Linked DNA regions of Homo sapiens: regions 1 and 2 are each reported to be linked to region 3. The links are microRNA targets in miRTarBase. Many come from high-throughput screens and were not tested one by one. Region 3 holds a microRNA gene; each other region holds the end of a gene's coding sequence.
What was found. Region 3 holds the annotated microRNA hsa-miR-1304-5p (UUUGAGGCUACAGUGAGAUGUG, at 3,208-3,229, shown strand). A microRNA usually pairs through its seed, bases 2 to 8, with sites in the 3' UTR of a target mRNA and lowers its output. Matches are read on the target gene's strand: a 7mer-m8 pairs with bases 2 to 8, a 7mer-A1 pairs with bases 2 to 7 and ends in A, and an 8mer does both.

Region 1 (7,118 bases), not on the chromosome of region 3:
CCAGGCACCCGGTGCAGCACATCTCATTCAGCAGCCACAGCCTCATCACGGCCAACGTGCCTTACCAGACGGTAATGCGAAACGCCGACCTGGACAGCTTCACTACTCACAGGAGGTTAGTGGTGGGGCCGGGCGAGTAAGAGACCATCTTAGTTTGACTGATGTATAGAACCCCACCCCCCCCGCCGTGACACATTGCACCCTATGGGCTATACCCTCAGGCAGGGCCCTGCCTTTCTGCGAATTGGAAACATAAACGTGGATGCTGACCTGTACTGAGCACCCAGCATCTGATGCAGGACAGCCCCGTGGGGCGAGTCCACGCTGTCGGCTGTACAGAGAGGGAGGGCAAGCCGTATGCTGAGGGGCCTGCTGTGGTTAGAATCCTGTCAGGGGCAAGGCCCGCCCTCTTGAGTCCTTGCCCTGTGACACTCACTGCGCCCATCGGACTTGTGCACCCCCACGTTGACCGCTAAGCCGGGGACTGTGAGTATCTGACGCTGTGTGCCCAGAGAACGCGTTTGTGAAGCTGAACCTCTATCTGGTCTCAGGCGAACGCCTCCTGCACAGACAGAAGCGGCTGGGGTGAGGGCCAGCGAGGCAGCCCTGACCTGTCACCATCTTTGTGCTCTTTCTAGACACCGGGGGCTGATCCGCGCCTATGAGTTTGCGGTGGACCAGCTGGCCTTCCAGAGCCCTCTCCCTGTCTGCCGTTCATCCTGTGACGCCATGGCCACTCACTACTACGACCTCGCACTGGCCTTTCCCTATAACCATGTTTAGGGATGTGCCTCAGTTGGGAGCAAGGAGAAAAATGGGAAGAACCAGTTTTATCCATCTTAAAACGCCAGGCACCTCTTCACAGGTGGTAAACATTTAGGGGAAGAAAGCAGCCCAGGGTGCCATGCCTGACAGCACGCATCTCCCTGACCCCTGCACTTCCCCCAGCGCCTGGGGCAAGCTGGCGTGTGCCAGGGCTCGAGTCCCACGTGCTGCCAACTCAAACATAGCCTCCTTCCCCACCCAGCTGGCCACCCTGGCCTCAGCTCCCTCAGGACGCCTCAGGGATCTCGCTGCGCGGTCCTATACGGTCCCTGCTTAGCCAGCTTCTGTGTGTCCGCCCTCCCAGCTCCAGCCCTGCAGGCCGTCTTTTCCGTCTCCAGCCCCTTACCTCTTTTCCTCCGAGGGCCTTTGGATGTGCTTGTTCCTGGCCTCCAAGGCAATAACCTCCATGTCCTTTTCCCTGTATTTACTTGGGGTGCTCTTCTGTGACACTTGCCACCACCACCTTCCAGTAGCAAGCTGGTAGAGCTGTACTTTTTCTTCACAGCTTTTACCATGGTTTATAATTATATACTTATACAGTTTAGTCATCAATGACTATTTTGCTTACTATTGTGTCTATGATATGTGATACAAAGCAAATATTTTCTAAATATTCATTGACTAAACAGCCATCAAGATGAAACAGGACAGGAGAGAACTGTTCAGTGTGATACAGAGCTGCCATTTCCAAAGTATTCTGGAAGCAAGCCATTGCCTTACTCTTGATTTTCAACAGTTCTAAACAGCAACAGCATCCACCTAATATACCTTCAGAATATCAAAGCGAAAACTGATAGAACTACAAAGAGAAATAAAATCCATTCTCACGGCAGGCAAATCAGTGAGAAAAATGTAAAGATCTGGAGGATTTACTTAGTATCGCTAACAAGCTGGATCCAGTAGATGCGTATGGAATTTCAAATACACATAGACGATGCACAAAAAACCACCCTGTACGAAGGCCACAAAGAACAGCTCAGATGCACAAAGATTCACACCATACAGGCCAAATTATAGAATCCCCCAACCCCAAGACACTGCACCCTATGGGCTATACCCTCAGGCAGGGCCCTGCTTTTCTAGGAATTGACTCCAATGCAGAATAGTGAGAAATCAACAAAAAGCAAAATAAGACAATTCCAGACACTCCTGAATTTACTTGGATTTAAAGAGGTTAATAAAAACAAACTATAAACTCTCTAGACTGGGCTGACAGTAAAAGCACAGAATACAAAACCCAGGGGATGGGGCTGGGAGGGGCTGTGAGGGGCTGGCACCTCAGCTCAGAAAAGGTAGCAGCAATCCCAAAGCAGCAGAAGGCAGGGGTTAAATCAGGATAAAAACAGACATCAGTGGAATCGAAAACCAATAGTTAGTTAATATAAAGCCAGAAGGTTTTGTTTTTTTTCAGGTGGGGTCTCGCTCTGTCACCTAGACTAGACTGGAGTGCAATGGCCTGATCTCGGCTCACTGCAACCTCTGCCTCCCGAGTTCAAGCAATTCTCCTGCCTCAGCCTCCTGAGTAGCTGGGATTACAGGCGTCCGCTACCACAACTGGCTAATTTTTACATTTTTAGTAGAGACGGGGGATATTGCTATGTTGGCCAGGCTGGTCTCAAACTTCTGACCTCAAATGATTGCCTGCCTCAGCCTCCCAAAGTGCTGGGATTACAGGTGTAAGTCACTGTACCCAGCCCAAAAGCAGTTTAAAAAAAAAAAAGACAAAATATACAACTCTTGATAAAACATAAAGGTACAGTGGTCTATGAGGAAGAGAAAAGGTACCTGAGGATGCAGAAGTACCTACCACATGGGAACCGTTTGTCCACACTCATTCCAGAGAAAACCGAGTCCTCTCAGTTGCACACGTGTACGTATCAGTGGGAAGTGCTTGCCATTACTCCAAAGCCTAGAACCTTCACGTCATGAAGGTTCTGGAAGGTTTTTCAGATTGCTTAAGATACGCAGCCATTCCATATTCATCTCCAACTACACAGGGGAACGGAGCAGATAGAGCTGCGACTGGGAAGCGTCACCTTCCCGTCCAGAGCGCTTTCTTTCAGACCCTGCCTACCTGCAGGCAGATGGACCGGAGGGTTTTCTGCTTCCTTTCAACCAGATAACTTCCTAAGTGGAGATGGCCTGTAGGTAGCAAATGCAGGATTTTGTTTACTTTCATCATGTCATGTGGTGGTCAGACTGCTCGCTGGTGGCCTCGCTTTAGAAGGTTTTCATCAAGCCCCGCCCTTTCTCTCTCATAGTCTTAATGCGTCTGGACCACTGGGGAAAATATTTTTCTTTTCAAAAAGCAGCCCCTTCAGTCTGCGTTCCCAGTTCATTTTGCAGGCGCATTCGCCCTTCCTAGTTTGCAGCAATTAAAGATAACGGAGTGTAAAGTCATTAGACCCAGAATTAGAGCAGCCAGCAGCTGGCCCAGTGTAAAAATGTCCCAAGTGTAGCCCCTCCCACCGCAGAGCCTGTTTCTAACGTACCTGCCATTCGTGGAAGTCGCCTGGGTTTTGTAAAGGAGAATTTTTTGGACTCAAGCTGTCATCTTCAAGCACGCCAACTTCAGGCAGTGTTTTCTACTGCAAACCTCCACATCCTGGAATCAATCACACTGACAGGGAAAGGATAAATGCTCCTTTATAAGCCAACATGTATCCAAATTAAGCCCCCTTACCTTTATCCAGACCCTTTCACAAACAAGTTCTGAGTTTTTAGCCAATTGATCCTCTACTTTCCTTCTTTAGTCCCTCTCAGGGACGCCTCCATCCCCGGCTCCCCTAAAGGTAGAAGATACTCGAGCATGCTGCCAGGGGAGCTGGATGGTGAAACACCTGAAGATCTCATATCGCCTCTCAAAACACTGTCGGACTTGCTTTCTGCTTTATGATGTCCGTAGTTGTTCTAATATTAAATGCTTTGAATTTCTTTATTGGTCAAGTTATTTTAACTTGGGCAAGGCATACAGTGATAATCCCCTGGCATGCCACGATTCCAGCTCTTCCCACCCCCTTGAAATCTTACCTCCCACCGTGGTGGTTTTGTAAACCCACAGTCAATTGGATTTGCCCAGAACCTCCCCTACAGGCGCTCCCAGCCCAGGATCCAGGAGACCCGCAACATGGTACAGTAACTCTTCACCAACCGTCATCAATAGGTTTTCTTAGAAACTACAACTTTAAGCAAAATGAGGTATAATGAAACTAATTTTGGCTGGGCAAGGTGGCTCAGGCCTGTAATCCCTGCACTTTGGGAGACCGAGGCAGGCGTATCACCTGAGGTCAGGAGCTCAAGACCAGCCTGGCCAACATGGCAAAACCCCATCTCTACTAAAAATACAAAAATTAGCCAGGCCTGGTGGCGTGTGCCTGTAATCACAACTACTCGGGAGGCTGAGGCAGGAGAATCGCTTGCAGCCAAGAGGCAGAGGTTGCAGTGAGCTGAGATCGCACCACTGCACTCCAGCCTGGGCGACAGAGCGAGACTTCGTCTCAAAAAAAGAAATGGCAACTTTAAGCAAAATGATATATAATGAAACTAATTTTACTATAGGCTAATGGATGTAAACAAGAGTTAAGTTCCCACGGCATATTGCTGGCCATAAAAACTTCACCAAACTTTAGAACTTTAAACCAAACACTTCTAATATTAAACATTAAATAGACATGAGTTAGTTATACATACATTTAAGAAAAATTACTAAAAACAAGATAATTACCCAATTTTTGGTGACTCTGAGTGCTGGCAGTTGCAGCGATGGTGAGTTATATCACAGAATAAATGTTTGCAAAGCAAAAATTGTCAGGAGCGCCTCCTTCCACCACGCAGGTCAAACACCAGAATGAACGGGCTCACTGGGCACTTCCGTACAGCGTCATTTACTATTGTGCATTTGTATGGTTATGGGAGGCAATTTTTATTTTACAATAATTTTTTATTCATTCCTTCTTTCATTTTCCAACTCAGTTATTCCAGTTTAAGGTGGTGGGCGACCAGAGCCTATCCCAACAGCTCAGTGTGCAAGGCAGGGACCACCCTGGACAGGATGCCCTCCCATCACAGGGCACACTCACCCCCCACACACACTCAGACTGCGACCAGACACCAACAAACCTCACCTGCACATCTTTGGGGCGTGGGAGGAAACCAGAGTGCCCAGAAAGCTCTCCGACCGGGAGGACGTCTAGACGGTGCACAGACAGTGGCCCCAGCCGGGAATCAATTTTTTTCTCAATGTTATAACAAAATGACATTGAATAAAACGATGCTATTCAAGGACCCACTGTGTGTGAAATGGTGCATGAGGGCATTTTCTGGGAAAAAGCGTGGTTACCTCGCATCAGATTCTCCAAGGGACTACAGCCCCCCTGAGAATTTCATCTCTGCCACTAGAGTGTGTTTTGTAACCCAAGCCATGTGCCACCCTGGTGCTGCTGTTGCCCAGGCAATAATTTATGTTTCAGAGATACTCCAGGGACGGCATCACCTTCTCCTACCAAGCACAACTCCCTGCGCCGGCTGAACGCTAGGGTTTCAGCTGATCGGAGGGAAACTGAATTTCCCCAAGAGAGGGCTTGGTCCTTTCTGAAAGGAAAGGCTGACACCCCCAAGATGAAGTCCTTCACCCCCAACCCCCTCTTGAGAGCTAGAGGCCCCACGTTTCAGGGGCTAGCGCTTCCCACCACACGTGTTAGATGGCAGACACTGGCCGCCGCAAACCCACTTTGTTTACAGTTGCTGAGAAACGGCTTCCCCTGGTGAGGGTCCAGCCTTCTCGTAACAACTGTCCCGCGGCTATTCCAGGCGGGCCACCACAGGGGCTCCAACAGGGCCGTCTCCCACTGCCTGACGGAGCCTTCGCTCTGAGCAGCAGCTGCAGCAGCAGTGAGCTCACGGCGCTGGCCGGCCGGGCCGAGGTGCTGTGAGCCACACAGGCCGGCCCACGTCACCCGTGCAGCCGGGCCAGATGGTTACCTGGCTACCGCTGCAGGGGCCTGTGGCGACTTGGACAAGGGCTGCCTCTAATGTGCGATGGCAGATTCCCTCTTGCTGGGCTCTGGCGGGTGCCATGTTGTCCCCAGCCCACTTTCGGCCTCTGATGCCCAGCGTGGGCTTCCAGAAGCAGCCATTTGACTGCTCTGCACTGGGGGCCGTGTCTTTTCCTAGGAAGGGAAGGGGAAGCCCCCCCAGGCTGAGCTGTCAAGCCGTGTCTTTTCTTCCCTCGCCCAATGTTAGGACAAACGCTGCCTTTTCGTTTCTCTAAGATAGACGTGGCAGCTACCTCCTCAGCGGGCCCCTTGACCACTGCCACCCCATCAGAGCCACTCTTGGGGCACCGGCCCTTCCTCTGGGAGACTAGAACCCAGTCCCTTGCTGACTTGGTCAACAAGCAGATTAGAGGGCTGAGCAGCCACCACGTCCTCCTCAGAGTCGTGAGTCCTCCTAGGACCAGGCTGGTCCACCACCAAGCCCCTGCTGATTGCCACATGTGCAAATTCTGCAAGAGGACAGAGACGCCGCCAGTGCCCCGGGAAGTGCGGTGCTCCCCCTACTCAGCTCTTCCTGGCTTTCCCAAGGTCGCTGTGTGGGAGGACAGCCTGCAAGGCAGGTGTTTGCAAAAGCCTTGCCAAGGCAACTTGTATTTTTAACTCTCCATCAGCCTACTTAAGTCACACGGCGCCGTTTCCAGCACAGCAGAGTTCAGCCGCAGCCTCGTTAACTGCAGGCAGGTGGGGACAGGTTCAACTGCTCCATGACAAGGATCAGATCCACAGATGACCTGTCTCCCATTAGCAAAGCTTAAAAAGAACTTTCCAGTCCCTTGGCTCAGAAAACAACAGCATTGTTTTGTTAAAGTCTAGCAATAATTCGTTCCCTATGCGGGTATTTGGCCAGAGCTGGAAGCTGCTGTCATCTTACTCCGTTCCCTTATCCATAATTCATGCTTAACGTGGCTGCAGTGTGTCCCCTGAGCTCCTCATATTCCATTTCCATCACACGGCCCTTTTGTAAACCAACCAAATTAGAGTGTTTGTGTCAAATTGCCATATTCTTTCAACATCCAAAAGCCAACCTTTCCCCTTGGTAATACGGCGATATTAGGAGTTCAGCCCGCTTTCGACTCTATTCCTGGCAGATGGCTGAAGAGTATGGACAGAGGTGACCTCCCCTGGCGTCCAGCAGGCTGAGGATGCCGCCCCTGCTCAGTCTTCTCCACCCACGGCCTGTGGCCCTCAAAGGACGAACTTATCAGCTTCCTTCAAATATTTGACTTAGTGTTGATTTCT
Region 2 (7,118 bases), not on the chromosome of region 3:
ACTCTGCATAGTGGTTCAAATTTCGTTTAAAAAAAATTAACATTAGTAGTGTGGAGACAAAGATGTGAAGACGGGCCGGGCGCGGTGGCTCACGCTTGTAATCCCAGCACTTTGGGAGACCGAGGCGGGCAGATCACTTGAGTCAGGAGTTCGAGACCAGCCTGGCCAACATGGTGAGACCCCCCCACCTCTACTAAAAGTACAAAAATTAGCCGGGTGCGGGCGTCAATTATCCCAGCTACTCGGGAGGCTGAGGTGGGAGAATCGCTTGAACCTGGAAGGCAGAGGTTGCGGTGAGCTGAGGTCGCACCATTGCACTCCAGCCTGGGTGACAAAGTGAGACTCCGTCTCAAAAACGAACAAAGACCGGGTTGGGAGGCCTGGGTCACTGATTCTCTGTCTTGGCGACTTCTTCTTGCCCCGTGATGGCCGCTGGGCACGCAGGGCTCATCCTTGGTGAGCATCCTGGGGAAAGGCCAGGAAAGGGGCGCAGCACCGGGTGTTCCCTCCTAGCCTGGTCGCTCGGGGGGAGCGTTGGTTGGCGGGGTGCAGGTCTGGTGCTCGCTCAGGTGGGCCAGGCACCCGCGCGCCAGGTGAGGCGGGCGGGGGAACACACGCCCCTGGCCCCTGCGCCGCCGTCACGGCCGCCCACCACCCGAGGGCGGGGGTCCTGGTGGGGTGTCGATTCCGCCTCCCCGCCCACAGGCACTGGGCCCCGGGCGGCCACCGGGGTGCGGGGCTCCCAGCGTCTCGGGCTCCCACTGCTTCAGGCCTGTCCAGGGGCGGGGAGCGTCTCTGTGGCCGCGGCGGGATTGCGGCGCGGTGGCCGGGCGTCCCCTGCAGGAAGCTGTTCTCGCTCGCTGCCTCCCCCACCTGGGAGGGAAGCGCCTGGATTTTGGGTCCCGCCGCCCTCCGCGCCCTGGGCCTCCACCTGTGTTCCCAAAGCCCAGCCACGAGTCTGGGGGTGCCGGGCGTGCCGTGGTGGGCGGAGGCTTCCACAGCCCCTCCCTGCCAGGGACGGCGGGGCGGGACATGGCGGGGCCGCACGCACCGGGTGGACGACAGGGGATGCCGCGGGCTCGCGTCAGCCAGGGCGCCAGGCAGGGTCCCAGATGGCAAATGGGGTCTTGGGTGCAGAGTCTGGGCGGCCCTGGCTCACCGCCCCACTCCCGTCTGGCCGAAGGACAGCGACCATCCCTTTAGTCCCCACCACAGGGCCATCAGCCTGCGTTTTGCAGCAGGGCGCCCAGGTAACAGCGCCAGAGTGGCCCAGCTGGGACTTGTCCCCAGGTCCGGAGGTTCCTGGCTTCCGTGGGCCCCCAACTGCGCAGGTCCCATCCAGGAGCCCCGTGGTGACACCCCCCAACTATCAAAGTCCCTCGTCCCTTTCTCCCTCGTCTGAGCAGATCCCTTCTACTCCACACCCCGGCCCTGCTGGGACCCCTTCCACGCCCCACAAATCAGAAGAGCCACTGAAGAAAACTTGCTTCCGGATTCAAACCCCAGCAGCTGGGTAACCCGGGGCAAGTCCCCTCCCTTTCATTTCCTCCACTGCCAACTGCCAGTCACAGCCCTCAGTGGGGTGCCAGAGGACAGAGATGACTCACTCTGCCTGTAGGAAGGTCAATGGAGCGCTCTTCCAGCCGCCCCAGGACCCCATATGTCCCCTGGGGCGCCAAAGCCAGGTGCACACACCGGGCCACCCCGTCCTCAGCCCAGCGTGGCCCCTCCTGCTGGCAGCAACAGCAAGCAGGCTGCCTCCTTAAGACACTGGCTCCAGGGACAGTCAGGGACCCTTCAGCAGAGGTAGACCGCGGGCCCCACCCCGGCTCCACCAGAACAGGCCTGCAGAAGGCCCAGGCCTCAACCCCACCTGAGTGGGCCTGTGTGTGGGTTCCAGGGACAGGCCCCGGATTTGCCAGCTGGCGGCCCTCTGGGAAGCAAATGCTCTGGTACTTGGGCCCAGCTCCCCTCCGCAGGCCTCAGACAGCCCACTAGACCCACCAGGCTCCAGGAAGGCAGAGGGCAGGAGGCCACAGGGAAGTGACAGACACACCCACATCATCATGTCAGAGGGAAAAGTTTATTGAGTCAGCCACAGAGGAACAGAGAAACAGACACAAGGAGGTTCTGTGTGCATGGAGGAAATCAGGGCGCCGCACAGCTGAACCCTGCGCAGGACAGAGGGGCGCGGACAGCAGCGCATGCCACAAACATTCACCTGGCAAAGAAACAGAGCAGAACCTAAGGGCTCTGTGTACACACAGACACAAACATGAGGCCACTGTTACCCAACTAATAGAAGAGAGTCATGAGCGACACGACACTTCCTTACGACCTCTCTCTCCTAAAACGTAACATTATGTGTTTAACACACGCTTACCACCACTGCTAACTCAGCAAGCGCGATTACAGTGCTCCAACTTAATAAGTTGATAAAAAGCTGTCCCGTGGCCAGTTCACAATGGAACTAAATAGTTTCGTTCCGAGATGCCTGGGGAGTTTCTCTGGCAACGAGGCATTTCCAACAAACGGGTCATTCTGTCACCAGGGGATGGTCTCAGTCCACGGCACAGAGCGACGTGCCCCTGGCAGCACTGTGGAGGGCAAGGGATGCCGCTAGGAGGGGTGCTCAGTCCTCCTGGAGGACCCAAGGAGGGGCTGGCCAAGGGGCCACCTTGAGCTCTGGCCGGAGGGTGATGGCTGGCTTTGCATGAGGAGGTGACAAGAACTTTGGGCTGGGCCCCCAACATGCTGTGTGCACGGGCCTTGTTCAACTCGGAACTGAACTGACACCTCTCCCAGGTGGTGAAGGGCAGAACCCCCCCAGGAGCTCTCGGAAGCAGGGGTCCCTCACGACAGGCCTGTGGCACCAGGCTTGGAGGCAGGGAGCTGGTGTCTCTCAGAAGCGGCGCGTGCTGGTGGGAGGCGGAGGGACAAACGAGGCTGACTCCGCAGCAGCAGTCCCTCACACGCTGTGTGGTGGCTAAAGCTGGACCAAAGTTAAGAAGCGAAACAGCGTGGGAAAAGGTGTCCATCTTTTCTGAAGCCGGTTAATGTCTAGTGTGGACAGCAATATTTGGTGTTTTAACAAACCTGGTCTCTAATAGGGGCCGCCATCGCTGGTGGCTGCACAAACCATTAGCCATATAAGGGAACAGTTGGTATCTTTAAGAGTATTTTTCAAACATGTCACCCGAACATCACCGCCCCAGCAGTGGGAGAGCCGAGGGTGGCCTGCAGCTCCCCCTTCCAGCCCTCTTGTTGCTGCAGGGACGGCTTCCTGTTCAGCTCTGGGGTTCTAGGTGGTCACAGACCAAGTCCTCCACACCTGGGGCATTCAAGAAACACTCCTGATGGCTGTTGGAAGCCACTAACCATCTGAGGAGGGCTCAGTGGCCCTGCCTCCCCCCCGGGGACAGGACTGGACAGAGTGCTTCTCCCAGGGGCCTGAGGCTTTCAAGGGCAGGTGTCCAAGAGGCAGCACACAGCACTGACGTGTTCAGTGGCAGGTTGGAGGATTCCAGCTAAGGCCCCTGCCTGAGAGTGAGAAAAACAACACTCCAAAGCTAGCTCTTCAGCCACCAGGGAACGTCATGATGCCAGTCTGCCGACAGACCCAGGAAAGGGGACACAGGCAGGCCGGCCCAGCTGAGAGCTCACGGCCTCTGCCCCTTCCCGCCAGCTCGCATTCCTGCACCTGGAAACTTCTGCCATGTGTTAAGGGGAAGCTCGTTAAAAGAGTCTTTACTTAGCTGACTTGTATAGGGAACAAAACCACCACAAATGAGACCAACATTATCCTAGTTTGGTAACTGGTCTGCGCACATTACACAAGACTCGACCAACCGACACACCCTGCCTGACACTCCACTCAGTGTGCAGAGGCACCCAGGCCACCAGCCTGCACAGCCCACACCCCAAGGGTGCCACGAGCCCAACTCCAGCTGCGTCCTCAGCACTGGATGGCTGGCCAGCTTCCCCAGGGGGCACCCGCACGGCCTCCTCGTCCCTCTCGGGCAAGGCTATCAGCCAGAGCACCTCCCCTTTGACACTGACCGGCGTCCCCAGCCCCGCCTTGTTACTGCATCCGTCTGAGGTACAAGGTTAGAAGCCACAGACACCCGAGCTGCAGCCTGACCCACACAAGCTGCGGGCGCAATGGCGCTTTGCAGACAAGACAGCCTGCCCGTCTGCCCTTCTTCTCGGCTTCCCTTAAGACACAAGGTGACGACACGGACGGTTTCAAGTGAGTGCAATCTGGAAATAATCTCAGTGCAGGGGAGGGGTTGAGGCCAAAGATGTCGTGACCTGGTCCCCGCTGTGGCCAGGCCGGGCCCACACGCACCGCCAGAGCCCCGGTCACCCACACCTGCCTCCCAGGAAGGCAGCTCCAGAAACCGACTCTACTGACCCTGGACCCCAGCCCCTGCGGTCCCCTCATTTGGGCTCTGCACACTGACCTGCACACTAAGAAGGGCTTTGCTTGCAAACACCTGAAGTGCTGACAGCTTGACGAGTCTACAAAGTGTGCAGCCACCGACTCCTGTCACCGAGGAGCACACAACAGTCACGCCTGTCCCTGGCTGGCACTGGCTTCCGGCACGTTCATACCCTGACAGTGACTGTGGCAAGGCCATGTGGAGGGCACTGAATGGCCTTTGTTGTCCTTACTTCAGATTAGTCGAGGCTGGGATCTCAAGGGTTAACACACTATTCAGAGGGGGGTTGCGAAGCCCCTCTTCCTCCTAAAAATCAAGTCGCAGCCAGGCCCTGAGACTTCTGCACTCCCAGCTGGCGAGGAATCGGCTTTGGTGAGCCCTGGATCCGGCCCCTGGGCCTTCAGATGAGGGTGGGAAGCCTCAGGCAAGGGGTGGCCCCCAGATGAACCCACATTTGGTGTGGTTTGGGTCGGATCTTGATTCGGGTCAGGCCACTGCCACCCCACATCCGCTGCTTTCTTGCCTCCAACTGTTTTATAGTCGTCAGGACGAGAAGCCGGAGAAACCAGCTAAGACGGGAGCTGCGCCTCGAGATCCTGACAAGTACAGCCAGGTCTCAGAGAGGGGATCTACAGTCTTAAAGCCGCTAGAGGATCAAGTTGCATAGAGTGAGCTGCCACGGACGCCCGGCCGAGGTGAGGAAGCCAGGGGTGCCGTCCCCCAGAGAAGAAGGGCCACAGTGCCCAGCCCACGGGGCTCCCGCTGGCCGGAGGGCTCGCAGCAAAGCTGGCAGCACTTTCAGTAGTCGGACTTGCCCTGTCCAAGCACGAGATTCACAAGGCCATTCTCAAGTTTCCACACATCCAGAAAATGTTCTTGAAGTCTTGAAAGTCAGCCCTCTGCGATCCTGGGACACCGTGGCCTGGCAGACACACCGTGCGTGAGCAGGTACCCAACTGCCACCCGGACACAAACACACAATCTACAAAGTGCCACCAGCGGCAGGAGACACGGCAAGACCAGAGGCCCATCAAGTACATTAAACAGTCGTTCCTTTAAATACACAGAAAATTCAAGTAATTTATTTAAAAACTGCTTTAGTTTCATCTTGAAATATATATACGTGTATATATATATTTGCTCTAGAATGATCATATTGCAGCATGATTCTCATGCATTTCAAAGTACTTTATTTAAAAAACAACTTGAGGCAGCAAAAGTATTAATTACAATTGTCTGACTTTATCTGTGTGATGTGCGGGGCCTCCCTGTCTCCTGATCTCAGTAAGCCTACACCGACCGTTTCAAATAGGCTTAGTTCTAAAGAGACTGTGGTTTGGAAAACATTTCCAAATAGCTGCAGTACTTGCCCGAGTTTTGCTTATTCGTTGAAACCAGAACGACTGTGCGGAGCCCTCCGGTGACACGGGCCTTAGCTGTCCCAGACGTCTGCGTCCCTTTGCACCTGTCCCGATTCCAGCGTCGAGCAGGTGAGCAGGCGAGGAAGGCATGGAGTTCCGACAGGTTCCAGCACGCATGTCCCCTTCGCAAGCGGGGGAGGCCCTCGCACATCCACACACCCGAGGTAGCCTTGCGGCGGGACTTGGGAGGCAGGGCCCGCTGGGAGCTCTGCTCTCAGGAATCCCCAGCAAATGGTTTAGAGACGAATCAAAGTGCAGTGAAAGTCAACGTTTCCTTCCCCCTGACGTTGGGAGCGGTCTGGAGGGGCAACCTGGCCTCCTAGGAGAGTCCTTCAGACGGGACGAGCGGGGTCACATGGCTGGGCGCAGACACACTCACACGCGCACGCAGGAGCTCGTCTGGAGCTCACGCTCCGCCCCCAGGTGGTGCCCAGCCCATCCCTGGGCAGGGTGTCTGGGAGCCACCCCTGCAAATCACTGTCTTCTGCCCAGGCCCCCCGGACCAGCCTCCTCCCAGCTTTGGTGTGCGGTCGCTGCCCAAGGACAGGGCTGCCCTGGGCACAATGTGTCCAACTCGCTGAGGAAAAGAAGATACGTCATTCTTCTAAGAGAACCACATTGTGGAAAAGAAAATTTTTTTTCTAAAATAATCATAAAGAAAAATACTCTCCAACAGCTGCGGCACCAGCCAATGTGACGAGATCTGACAGACGTCAATACCTGCAGGCGTCTACAGAGAGGAAATTTGATAAAAATATTTTAGTCACTGACTACACTACCATTATCTGAAGCATTCAGATAAGACTTAGCAGAGAATGTCAGATTTTGTTTTCAATTATAATTTTAGAAATGCAAAATCTTATTTTTTCTAAGTTGCTTATTGTCTATATAAATGTTTTATATCATTTAAAAACATGCAGAATAATACACCTGCAGAATAAAAGAGCTGAAATTAAAATATCTTTTTCAATTAAAAAAAATATTTCAAATGATTCTTTTAATTATCGAAAAAGTGGTTAGTGTGGTATTTGCTTAGTAGCTCAAACCTACCCTACGACTACTGAATTGTGGCTATGGGGGCGGAGGGGCTCTGGCCCGCACTGCCGGGTCGGCCACAGCATCTGCAGGGTTCCGCGGTGTCTCTGCTCCCGCCCATGGCCTGGCCCCGCCGCCCGCCCGCCCGCCCACCCGCCCACTGGAATGTGTGTAAACGGGAGTGCGGCTCAGACCACGGACTCTGTCTCCACCGGTCCCT
Region 3 (7,118 bases):
ACAGAGTATGACAATTGGGATTATTACAGTTGAGCCAAGCTTGGCACACCGTTCATCTAGAATTCTCCAGAACACAAAATTCTCAAATTTTGTGTTTCCTTTGACTAGTATTGCAGTTTCAGTTATATTTCAGAGTGGAATATACAACTAATTAGGTCATCGAAGATTCTGTCATCTCGATGATAAATTTTAATATTACAGAGCAGAGGATGAGGATGCAACACATCTTGAAGATAACGAATGTGATATCAAATTGGCAGTAAGTGACTTATTTTTTTCCTATTCCATTTTGGGAAGGCAGGAGTTGGTTGATACAGAAGGAATTATATTTAGTTTTTCTCTTACACTTCATTTAACTTTTGAAAAGCTCTATAAGTTTACTGCAGGAAATGCAAGAAGGAAAATAATTTTTTAGAGACTTGATAAAGAACATGGGGTTTTCAGTACTATTTTTAATAAGTAGCATTCTGATACATATTATTGCTAGTTAGGATGTCAAATGAAAAAATAAGCAATGTTAATTTGGATTTTTAACATCTACATGTAGTCTCTAGGTTATCTGAAGTAATCCAGGGCATTCAGCTATATGTAATTACTAAACTATTTGAGTTATTGCTTAATCCATGATTTTTTGTTTGTTTTATGCAGGGGGATAGTTTCATAGTAAGTTCTGAATTCCCTGTAAGACTGAGTGTATACTTAGAAGAAGAGGATATTACTGAAGAAGCTGCTTTGTCTAAAAAGAGAGCTACAAAAGCCAAAAATACTGGACAGAGAGGCCTGAAAATGTGACAGGATCATGAATGTCAAAGGTGAAGCATATAGAAAAAACGACTTCATAGAAATGAATAAAGATAAATGTGGATATATGTACCAGTCTGGTGGTGAAGAAATTCTGAAACCCAGAACTTTATAACAAGAAAAAAAATTTTTAACCCTGTGAAGAAGTTTGTGAAAGAAACTTGTGAAGTAGTAATAATTAGAAAAAAAACCATTAAAACACCAGAGAAAATACATAGAAAAATTTGAGAAATTGTCATTTGATTTCTGAATAAGAGCTTACAGGTGTCCTGTGAGTATTGAAACAATGAAATGTAGTGATTTTAATTTTGAAAAGAAAATCTTAAAGTAACTTGACACCCAACCATCTTGAAGAGGGGATTTGAAATGCTGTAATTTTATCCCAGCTTTGTTCAGCCATGACAAGTGACCTGTCAGATGCTTAGTATTGTAATAACCTCATTTCCCTTTCCAAATTTAGAGTATCTTTAATACTATTTTTTTTAGACAGAGTCTCGATCTGTCACCCAGGCTGTAGTGCAATGGCCGCAGTCTTGGCTTACTGCAACCTCCATCTCCCGGGTTCAAGCGATTCTGCCTCAGCCTCCTTAGTAGCTGGGATTACAGGCGTTAGCCAGCACACCCAGCTAGTTTTTGTTTTTTTAGTAGAGACAGGCTTTCACCATGGTCTCGAACTCCTGACCTCAGGCGATCCGCCTGCCTTGGCCTCCCAAAATGCTGGGATTATAGGTGTGAGCCATGGCACCTGGCCTAATACTACTTTTAACTACCATTTTCACTTTTTATTAGTTCAAGAAAAGGCATACACATTTATTCAACATGTATACCTGGGGAGAACCAGTCATTACCCCGATGTTCATTATTTTGATCACCACGATAGAGCTGACTACTCTGCTATGTAGTGCATTTTGGGACTGCACTTATGTATGTTTTTGTTTAACGTGGACAAAGACTTACAGATAGGTGCAAAAAATAAATCCTCTTTTGCAACCCAGAACTCATTGTTCAGTATGAGTTTTGATACATATAAGAAGGGATATTATGATACCTGAGACAGTTGATTGATGGGAGTATTGATAGCCATAAAGGTTGGTTCCAGGCCAGGTGCAATGGGTCAAGCCTGCAATCCCCACACCAAGGTGGGAGTATTGCTTGAAACCAGGAGTTCAAGACCAGCCTAGGCAAGAAAGTAAGAAACACATCTCCACAAAAATTTAAAAATTAGCTGGGTACTGGGGCATGTGCCTGTAGTTGGAGTTACTCAGAAAGGGGGGAGGCTGAGGCAGAGTTGGAGGCTGCACTGAGCTTTGATGGCACCACTGTACTCCAGCCTGAGTAACAAAGACAGACCCTGTCTCTTAAGAAAAAAAGGTTGATTCCAGGCCTGTAGAATAGATAAACAGCATGGGATATGAGGGAAATCCTCAGCAGTATTAATTTTGCATTCCAATTTCATGTTGATGATATACACAATGGCTTTTTGTTTTAAAGGCTTTTATCTTGAGAACATGGTGTCTGGAGTTAAAGGTATGTCTCAATTTGAGTTTTCACATCATATTTGTTTATGTGTAGGAAACAGTATGTTGTCAGAGCAAGTTTCATTTTATTCAGGGACATTTCTACCATGCTTTTAATTCCCATTTATACTGATTTCTGAAAAGAAGAATCCTAGATTCACACATTTTATAGTGATGTGTCAGATTCATTTTAGTTGCAAGCATTAGAGGGTCCTGAATTTGTTAGTTTGTAGCAATAATCAGAACTTTGGATTTCCTACTTGAAGCCTACAGCATTATTTTGAATTAATGCACAATCTAAAATGAGGCAGAGGATTTTATGGTTTAATGCAAAATATAGTATAATAAAAGATGATTACACAGGTCATAAGAATTCATAAATTTGAATGATGTAGAGTTTGATTAAAAGTTATATAATGCCAAAGTCGTAACTTACAGGCACATTATATTCCTGTATTTTATAATGGATGACAATTAATTTTGAGCCAAGAATTAAAATTTGCTGAAATCTTCGAATTGGGAAAACAACATCCTCTGTTGCAATACTGAAGTTCATAACAACAGTTAGACTTTAAACTTAAATCTTAAGTTTAAATCTTTTTCCTTTGGTTCATGTAAAGGAGCTACTTGATGTTACTTTTTATTTATCATTCCTCTGGCTCCTAAGCACAACGTGATTGTGAAATTATTGTTTTTGTGATTAACGTAGTAGGAAGTTTCTGCAGTTGGCAATATTGTAAGAGCATATTGCAGTTTCTGCTCATAATTTCTTTCCTATGGAGTGTTAGACTTTGTTATTTATGTGTATAAATACTAGCTGGACACAGTGGTGCCTGTGGTCCCCAGCTACTCTGGAGGCTAAGGCAGGAGAAACACTTGAGCCCAGCGGTTTGAGGCTACAGTGAGATGTGATCCTGCCACATCTCACTGTAGCCTCGAACCCCTGGGCTCAAGTGATTCAGCAAGAATCACACGATTTTTAAAAGACATGGCAGATCCTGTGTCTTTAAAAAAAAATCAAAACCTTGTAAATAGTGGTTGAGGTCTATCCCGATGGGGCTTTTCCTGTAGCCTGCACATCGTTGGAAACGCCTCATAGAGTAACTCTGTGGTTTTACTTTACTCACAGGACTATTGTTAGATCTGTGGGAAGGAATTACAAGACAGTTGCTAAAAGTTTGAAAAAGACGGTTGCTAAACGTTATGAAAAACCAGATAATCTACTTTTTTACCTTAGGTATTGGCATACTCCACACATCTGTACCATTCTTGAGTGATCGCTTAGGTAAGTTTTAATTGGTGACAGTATAATCTTTTGGGAAATAATGATTACAGTTCAGATGATGAATTTAACTGTTCAACTGCTGAATGATAACGGGCATGAACTAAAACTTAATTCTGACAGAGCTGGATATGGCTGTATAATAAACTGGATCTTAAATTTATACTTGGGTTTTAGTTTTAATAACTGGAAATGTATCCTTTCTAAATCTTTAATTGGTACTTTCTATAGGAATGAATGTGATTTGAACTCATTCATGTTGAGAGGTAAGTAAAATATTTAACTTATAATAATCAAGGACTCAAAAGATGAAAAATAGAAATTACACCATCCCAGTATTTCAGGTATAACACAGAATTAGTAAGATACTGGCAAAAATATTACAATGTATATATTTGTATAGAGAAGGAAAATGAAGAGACTGCATGTCTATACCTACCAAACGAAACTACCTGTGTTCTTTGCATCATTATTCAACTGGCAGTTACACATATTTCATCCTAAAGTCACGTAAACCTGTGTGGATATGTTGAATCAATAGGGATATGAATTACATAAAAAGAATTTTGTGTAACTGGCAGTTTGAGCAACAATGAGCTTGACGTTTGTTGTCTGATCTGTTAAGTTACATGTATATATTCCATCTTTAAGTTTTATAGAGAGACTGGGCAAAGATTAGGCAAAGACTAGAGTTGTAGCTTAAAATGTAGTTAATGTAGCTTCCTTATTACAGTGACAATTAGGAAAAAAGCTCAAATTATTGTACTTGTTAAAGGAATTTGAGAGGTTTGTGAAAGCATTTCTCAGCAATATTGCAAATTTGGGAATACGAGTTGTACAGTTCAGTCATAATTGCACTGCATGGTATCTGCACTCAGCAGTTTACACCTGCTAGGGTGTTCAAAGGTCAGTGCTATAGAAATTCAGTATCTGGCATCGTTGGTTTTCTTGGCTTTGTGCTTGTTAAACCTGGTATTTCTACTGATACAGTATTTGTGTAGGTTTCTCAGAGTGTTCAGTTTGATATACTCTAAAATAGTAAGCAATGCTTTTTTTTCCAGGGTGTCAAATTGAGAACCAGGTAGATCCCCACCACCTACAGTAAAAAGGTAAGATTCTCTGTTTCTATTGATTCTGCTTGTTTCCCTCTATCAGTAGCACTGCCAGCATAACAAGAACTTCGTACAAATACACTACTAAGCTTTAAAGACTTTTACAATGCCTCATTCTAGAGAATGGGCACTGTTGATCATGGTGTCCAAAAATAGTTAATGTGGCTAAATTGAGACAGGTTATGCTTCCATCACAGTATGCATATTGCAGTGGTGACAATGAGACCTGTAACATTTTGCTATGTTTATGAGTAAAAATGTAGGAGAAAAATGTTGACTTTTCAATATTAGAAATAACATTTAATAAGGAATTTTCAGCTCTTATAGGACCACTTTTTTTATGTGCTGTATATTGACTGAAACATTGTAATGTGGTATACATTACTGTGTCTTGGATCAGGTGTCAAAATGTAACTGTACTTTGTACAATTCAACTTCTAGGACCCTAAAGTAAATTGGTTGAAGAAATTAGATCCCAAAGATTCTTGGTAAGTTAATTCATTACTTAAAAGGCCATGCAGGTTATTTTGTTGAATACTAGCTTTTCTCCAAATGTTATTTTAGGTTATTTATTTATCTAGCAATGCTATTGCAACATCTATCACCACTTAGGAGTAAAAAAAAGGACTAGGCTTACGTTATTATGTGTTTAAACTTCATTATTAACGATGTTATGATGATGGGCGAAATGTTCAACTGCTCTGAAGGGGCTGAATGAAAATGGCCTTTCTGAACATCCATTTACATTAAATATTGCATTGTATTTCAGAAGATTATAAAAGCTCAAAGGTAAAAGTTACCAGAAACATGATCATAGAGCAAATTCGGATATGAATGGGCATGGGATCATTGATTTTTAAAAATACCTATTAGTTTAAATAGCTATTTTAAGCATAGAATTTTCAATACCTTACTTGGGGTGCCGGGTTTCAGGATACTTTGGAACCTAAGCAACCTCATTCTTGAAAGATAGATTTATGTACTTAATAGTAAATATAAATTTGAAATACACATTTTTCCACAGGTGAATTTTGAAGTCTTCATCAGTATATCCATATTAAAACGAGATGACAGAAGCCAAAGTAATTATGGCAAGTAATGGTTTTTATCTTAACTATAAGTTATTTGCTCAAGGGTGTAATGGTCATTACCAAGGCTTTTAGAATGCAGTTTCTCATTTGCTGTGGACATGACCATAAAAAAATTTCCCAGTAGGTTTTCTATCTGCTACTTTGCTAGCAATCAGCTTATTGGGAACAGTTGATTAACTGTAATAGAAATGCAATACAAATAAAATGTGAACCACATGTGATTTTTCTTTAAAATCAGTGAGATTTGAAAATTCTCCTAGATCTCTTGAATCATGCAAATTTGCTTTGCCTTTATATTGTAACCCTTGTGGGTTGCTAATAACCAAGCAGTTTGTAGTAGAGTTAACTCAGGCTCGTTCTAGGGACTCATTCATGTTCACTCACTGTACACTCATCTCTGGAAATGTAAAATTTACTTTTATACTATTGTTATGTAGGGCTGACAGGACAACTGGATCAGTTTCATTAAAAAGGTATGTATGCATTAGAAAAGACATTTGTATGGGTCATTTCAAAGAGGGCTTATGAGGCTGTGAAACCCAGAGCTCTTAACGCTGTGACCAAAGATGGAAGTTCTCTATAGGAAGCCATAGCACTCCTAATGTTTGGTGCTATGTTTTCCTGAGGAGATATAAAACGTAATAATCCAGGATTGTTGCCATGTGAGAGTTTTAAAGGTTAATCAAAATTTCTCTTCTTCAGGGCAAACTTGAAGATAAATCTTTTGACTCCAGCTCTTTAGAGGATCTAAAGTGACCTTGATGGACAGTGGAAGAAATCACAACATGGAATTCCTCGAATAACAATTTATTGACTTTAAATAATTTTGTCTAATGCTACATATACACAATTAAAAAACCTTTACACTATTTCTAGAAAGTCAGCATGTATTTTTGGCTCGAAGTTTCTCTAGTGTTTTCTGTGGAAGGAATAAAAATTTGAGTTTCAGTTGTGTACTTCATGCTTGAAAAATTAAGTCCTTCTCCCTCAGTTATACTCACCTTATGGAATTCTTTTGCCCTTGCTCTGTTTTGGGCATAAGCTTCTTGTTTTGTTTTTTCTTCCTTTTGTTGTTTCACTTCAGCTAGTTGATTGTATAACCTGTAAAGAATTTATATAGAATTAGAGACAAACACTGCAAAAAGTGAATCACTAAAAAAAAAAAAAAAATTAACCCTACCTTAGACCCCTTTGGTGCCTTAGAGCCTGTGTAGTCTTTCTGTCTTCAGGAAAAGATGCTCTGACTTTATTCACGCCCTTTAGACGACTCACAGATGAACCTGAGGAAAGAAAAGTGAAATCAAGTTGTAAACAC

Region 1: the mRNA of FBXW8 is a reported target of hsa-miR-1304-5p. Seed matches in the 3' UTR shown: 7mer-A1 at 2,453-2,459.
Region 2: miRTarBase lists SLC45A4 as a target of hsa-miR-1304-5p. Seed matches in the 3' UTR shown: 7mer-m8 at 5,648-5,654 and 7mer-m8 at 4,290-4,296.

The regions. Positions count from the first base shown.
Region 1 is chr12:117,027,390-117,034,507 of GRCh38, forward strand. FBXW8 (F-box and WD repeat domain containing 8) reads left to right here. Exons shown (of 11, transcript NM_153348.3): 10 at 5-115; 11 at 639-3,759. The coding sequence ends at 783. Among named protein-coding and RNA genes, the nearest start is that of TESC, 68 kb to the right of the region's middle.
Region 2 is chr8:141,205,105-141,212,222 of GRCh38, forward strand. SLC45A4 (solute carrier family 45 member 4) reads right to left here. Exons shown (of 9, transcript NM_001286646.2): 8 at 7,093-7,118; 9 at 2,070-6,593. The coding sequence ends at 6,468. Among named protein-coding and RNA genes, the nearest start is that of SLC45A4-AS1, 46 kb to the right of the region's middle. RefSeq lists a silencer at 727-1,136 and enhancers at 3,212-3,719, 3,720-4,227.
Region 3 is chr11:93,729,835-93,736,952 of GRCh38, reverse strand. MIR1304 (microRNA 1304) reads left to right here and starts at 3,189; the gene lies at 3,189-3,279. CEP295 (centrosomal protein 295) reads right to left here. Exons shown (of 30, transcript NM_033395.2): 28 at 6,984-7,083; 29 at 6,805-6,904; 30 at 6,595-6,722. The coding sequence ends at 6,684. It overlaps TAF1D (TATA-box binding protein associated factor, RNA polymerase I subunit D), which reads left to right. Exons shown (of 6, transcript NM_024116.4): 5 at 202-259; 6 at 649-1,386. The coding sequence ends at 792. SNORA25 (small nucleolar RNA, H/ACA box 25) reads left to right here and starts at 6,307; the gene lies at 6,307-6,440. It also overlaps SNORA32, SNORD6, SNORA1, SNORA8, SNORD5 and SNORA18, and 1 more gene.